Linked DNA regions of Homo sapiens: region 2 is linked to region 1. The links come from fine-mapping of genetic effects on gene expression. Tissue or cell type: blood mononuclear cells. Region 1 holds a variant in brackets; the other region holds the start of a gene. All regions are shown on one strand. Distances are between the middles of the regions.

Region 1 (2,845 bases):
CATGGCGAAACCCCGTCTCTACTAAAAATACAAAAATTAGCCAGGCGTGGTGGTGCACACCTGTAGTCCCAGCTACTCAGGAGGCTGAAGCAGGAGAATCGCTTGAACCTGGGAGGCGGAGGCTGCAGTGTGCTAAGATTGTGCCACTGCACTCCAGCCTGGGCAATAGAGCAAGACTCTGTCTCAAAAAACAACAACAACAGAAAACCAGTCCCTTGTACAGAATGACAATGAACAATGTCGGGGTGAGTGCTGATTCAAGCACGGGTCTGGAACAGAGCTGTCGCTCCCAGGGTGCACAGAAGTGAAAGCTCTGCCTGTGCTCCCTTGGAAGGCTACCCCCCGCCACTCCCAGTCCTCATCTTTCCCAGCCTCCCCTCTCTGGCAGGGAGAGACTGCCTCTCTCCCTCCACCCTCCCTCCTCAAACTGCCTCAAGTGGGGCTTATGCTCCTGGAAAGGCTTGTCATCCTTGTGACATCTGTGTCAAAAGGGCAGCAGTGGCTCCCCTGGCTCAGGGCCGGCTGGGCTCGCTGAAGTCACTTCCCAACAGTGACCTCCTGCAGAGGCCAGGCCCGCAACAGTATAAAATGCTCCCTAAAGGTCTCACCTACACCCAGAACCGCCCATGATCCCAGCAAATGAGGCACCTTCTCCTTGTCGGAGGCCTGCCTGGCTGAGCCTCATTGTTCTCATCACAGTAAAACGGGGATGAGGGTGATACTTACAGCCTTACTTAACTTCAGTGTCCTGTTCCTTTTTTTTTTTTTTGAGACAGGGTGTTGCTCTGTCACCCAGGCTATGCAGTGGTGTGATCACAGCTCACTGCAGCCTCAAACTCCTGAGCTCAAGCTATCCTCCTCTCTTAGCCTCCCATGCCGCTGGGATTACAGGCAACACCACGCCCAGCTAATTTTTAATTTTGTGTAGAGACAGCATCTCACTATGTTGCCCAGCCTGGGCTCAAACTCCTAGGCCCCAGTGATCCTCCCACCTTGTCCTCCCAAAGTGCTGGGATTACAGGCCTGAGCCACTGCTCCCAGTCCAGTGTCCTATTCAGGGTAATGTTTTGTTCAGCACAAATCTTTGCCTCTCTGTCAAAACACATTTGGCAGGAACATCAAGGCCACCAACCCATTTGTGGCCGACCTCTGTGGGCTCCACC[C/T]GTGGGGAAGATAAAAAATGTCATTATGTTTTCATCCTAAAGAGAGTCCAGCTTTTCTCTTTCTTTTTCTTGTTCCTTCTGCAGTGACATGCGGTGGCCCCACCTGGCACCACAGGGCATTTGGAAGTGAGCAGGAGTGAGGAACAGATGGGGAGGGGCGGTGTCGGCAGGGCTACCTGTGACCAGACCTGTCAGCACACTTGGGGCTAACATCCACCCTCCCACACAAGAGGCACCAGGTCACACCAGCCACGGATGTAAGCCAACAGAGCCCCATGTCAGCCCCAACAAGAAGTTCTGGTTTCCTGTGAAACCCCCATCTTCTCAAGCTTTGAGTTTTTAGATGTCTTTAAAATGCAAGCAATAAATGGTGCGTATAAACATGAACCGCCCTCATCTCCACCCTGGAGCTGCCGGCATGGTCTGAGCTGGGTGGACAGGCAGGCCCATGCATGCCTGTCCCACTGTCCAAACATGAAGATGGAGAAAATGGCCTCTGTCCTCATCCCTCCAAACCTGCTCCCTGCTAGCTAGAAAGACGCAACGCCCACTCATTCAGGCTGGCACACCAGAGAGCTAGTGAAATAAAAATAGAACACCAAAGGCAGGATGAGGCAAAGGAGGCCAAATGCCTACAAGAAAGGGCTGTGACAAGCTTTAACTCTCGCACTGAGCTTCCTATCTGCCAAGGCCAAGGCTCAGGAGTGAGCTGCTCACGGACTTCTTATCACAGATAGACAGGGGCAGCCTCAGGCTTCCAAGACAGCACTCTTTCCTCCCAGGATTAAATTCTCAAGAGAATTCCACACATAAAGTTGATTCTGCAGGATCATGAGATCCAAAAACACAGACTGTGATCAAAGAGTAGAACTAGGATCACAAGAGTAAGCGTGGGGAAGCGTCGGCTCTGGCTTGAGCCAGACCCAAGCTCTGCGATTCCAGCTTCACGCCCAGGCACAGACCTCCTAACCCTCTGAGCTTCATGCGCCTCTCCTGTGGAATCAGAATAATAACCCCACACCTCCCAGGGCCGTCCCAGGGCTCCATGATGACAAATGTGAAGTGGCTGGCCCAGGGCAGGGGCCCACAACACTGTGCAAACAGCCACCCTCCTTCAGTTCTGCCAGAAAGGTGCAGATAGAAAAGAACCTCTGATTCCCAACTCGGGCCTCCGAAGGAAGCATTTAGGGTGGAAGGCTATTTTTAACATTTTAAACACTCTAATGGAAACCGATTCTAGGTGGGCAGCAACTTGGTGCACAGTCCCGAGAGGTACAGTGGCCATGAGAGCAAAGTAACATAGGAGCCCAGCAGCAGGGGAGGTGGGGGCCTGTGCCCACGCCATTGGCAGCCAGCCTCAGTCACACACTGGAGGTGGGCAGCCCAGGGTTCTCCCTGCTGGGACCCCCAGGGATAGGAAGGGGACGCAGGTGACGGAAGGAACAGCTAATCTATAGCTTAGGTGGCCACAGGCACCAGAAGGTTGACACGGCAGTTCTCAGACAGAGTCTGGATTTTTTGTTTTTGTTTTTGAGGCAGAGTCTTGCTCTGTGACCCAGGCTAGAGTGCACTGGTGCAACCATAGCTCACTGCAGCCTCTACCTCCCAAGTTCAAGCAATCCTCCCACCTCAGCCTCCCAAGTAGCTGAGACCACAGGAGCACGCCACCACGCCAGGCTAAT
Region 2 (2,672 bases), 30 kb after region 1:
ACACTGAATCTATTAGGACACATCTGATCTCAAAACAGGTTGATAGTCATAAATACTGTGATCAAAACAATGTACACTAAAAGTAAATATCTGATTTTAAAACTATAATGGTAAAGTACATTTAATCACAAATATGATAAATAGGCTGGGCACAGTGGCTCACGCCTGTAATCCCAGCACTTTGGGAGGCCGAAGCAGGTGGATCGCCTGAGATCAAGAGTTCCGGAGGCCGGGCGCGGTGGCTCATGCCTGTAATCCCAGCACTTTGGGAGGCCCAGGGTGGGCGGATCACAAGGTCAGGAGATCCAGACCATCCTGGCTAACACGGTGAAACCCCGTCTCTACTAAGAATACAAAGTTAGCCGGGCGTGGTGGCGGGCGCCTGTAGTCCCAGCTACTCAGAAGGCTGAGGCAGGAGAATGGCGTGAACCCGGGAGGCGGAGCTTGCAACGAGCCTAGATCGCGCCACTGCACTCCAGCCTGGGCGACAGAGTGAGACTCCGTCTTAAAAAAAAAAAAAAAAAAAAAAAAAAATAGTTCAAGACCAGTCTGGCCAACATGGTGAAACCCGGTCTCTACTGAAAATACAAAAAATTAGCCAGGGTGGTAGCGGGCGCCTGTAATCCCAGCTACTCGGGAGGCCGAGGCAGGAAAATCGCTTGAATCCCAGAGGTGGAGGTTGCAGTGAGCCGAGACCGTGCCATTGCACTCCAGCCTGGGCAACAACAGCGAAACTCCGTTTCAATATATATATATATGTTAAATCATAGATCCTTCTAATATACACTAAAACTAAACACACCACACACACACACACACACACCCCCCCAAGAAGTGACAGCACCGTGGGTCCCTACAGGGTCGAGGCTCGCACTTTGCAGGCTGTTGTGGGCTGGATGAGAGGCCACCTGGGGACGTCACCGAGCCAGCAGCGCTGACAGGAGGGCCCCCGTACCCACCGTTCTCTGGACTCAGAGCGCAGTGGCGGCGGCCCCTGCTCGTCGACAGACGTCCTCAGAGACCACGCGGCACCTTCAGGTGACAGGCCGAGGTCCGCGGCGGACCCGGTCCAGGAGGCTCAGCTCGCACGCCCTCGGATCGGGACCCGCTGAACCCGGGTGCCCGAGGGAGCTTGGCGGCCGCTCCAGGCGGGATCGCTGGGGGCTCCGGTCGCCCTGGTCCCCTCCCCTCCCCGGGCCGCACTCACCGAACTCCATCCAGTCCCACTCGCTGAGCGCGTCCATGTTGCGGCACAGGTCGTCCAGCACCCAGGAGGGCAGCTGGTAGATGTAGCAGGCCATGGCACGCTACGGGGCCGGCTCCGGCGCGGGACGACTGGGTCGGACACTGCGGGCTGCGGCTTCTCTAGCCAGGGGCGGACCGGCGGGGAAGTGGGCGGGGCGGGAGGGCACCAGCGTCCCCAGCGGCCACGGGCGGCACGACGGCCCCGCCGGCTCCACCCCAGCGCCGGCCAGAGAATCGGAACTGCGAGGGGAAACTGAGGCCCTGGTGGGAGAAGGCCACACGGGAATTCTGCCGCAGCGGCAGGAGGCCTTCTGACCCCACTTCCATCGGCACTACACCATGCATCATGCGCTCATCAAATACTCCATTAATTACCTACTGTATGCCAGGCAACTCCCTAGGTGTTGGTAATACCTGAATAAGAAACCCTACAGCCGGGCGCGGTGGATCACTCCTGTAATCCCAGTACTTTGGGAGGCCGAGGCGGACGGATCACGAGGTCAGGAGTTCGAGACTAGCCTGGCCAATATGGTGAAACCCCGTCACTACTAAAAATACAAAAATTAGCCGGGCACGGTGGCGCACGCCTGTAGTCCCAGCTACCTGGGAGGCTGAGGCAGAAGAATCGCTTGAACCCTGGAGGCGGAGGTTGCAGTAAGCCCAGATTGTGCCCTTGTACTCCAGCCTGGGTGAAGAGTGAGGCTCTGTCTCAAAAAAAAAAAAAAAAAAAAAAAAAAGCCTACAAAAGCCCTTGCTTTCATAAGACTTACAATCTAGGTGTGGAGAGAAAGACTAACAATAAATAATAAATATAGTATGTTACAGAGTGTCTTAAAGGTAATAAGCACTATTGCAAAAAAAAAAAAAAAGGAAAAAAAGTTGGTTAAAGGGAATCAGGAATTCAGATTGAGCATGGGGAATATTCTATTAAATAGGGTAGTCAGGTAGACTTTACTATAGTAGCTAATATGTATCGTGCAGCTACTATGTGCCAGGCACTGTTGTAGGTGCTGGGAATACCTCTGAAGAGAAGGACAAAATCCTTGTCCTGGAGGGAGACAGACAACAAGCAATAAAAATAGGCAGATAAGCTATGTTGGAGAATGAAAGTAGAAGCCTGGGCAACATAGGAAGATCTTATCTCTACAAAAAACTTTTTTTTTTTGAGACGGAGTCTTGCTCTGTAGCCCAGGCTGGAGTGCAGTGGCGCAATCTTGGCTCACTGCAGCCTCTGCCTCCCAGGTCCCGGTTCAAGCAATTCTCCTGCCTCAGTCTCCCGAGTAGCTGGGATTACAGGCACGCGCCACCACGCCCAGCTAATTTTTGTATTTTTAGTAGAGACAGGGTTTCACTGTGTTGGCCAGGATGGTCTTGAACTCCTGACCTCGTGATCCGCCTGCCTCGGCCTCCCAAAGTGCTAGGATTAC

Evidence for each region. PIP is the estimated chance that this variant, and not a neighbour inherited with it, causes the effect.
Region 2: IRAK2 starts here. The variant in region 1 is fine-mapped to the expression of IRAK2 in blood mononuclear cells (TOPMed, PIP above 0.99). The same link has a PIP of 0.9 or more in T cells, monocytes after LPS, monocytes after Pam3CSK4 and whole blood.

The regions. Positions count from the first base shown.
Region 1 is chr3:10,193,473-10,196,317 of GRCh38, reverse strand. All of the region lies in intron 2 of IRAK2 (interleukin 1 receptor associated kinase 2), which reads right to left. Among named protein-coding and RNA genes, the nearest start is that of IRAK2, 30 kb to the right of the region's middle. The variant C/T (reference allele first, on the strand shown) is at 1,164.
Region 2 is chr3:10,163,584-10,166,255 of GRCh38, reverse strand. IRAK2 (interleukin 1 receptor associated kinase 2) reads right to left here and starts at 1,337. Exons shown (of 13, transcript NM_001570.4): 1 at 1,208-1,337. The coding sequence starts at 1,301. RefSeq lists silencers at 1,023-1,172, 1,373-1,502.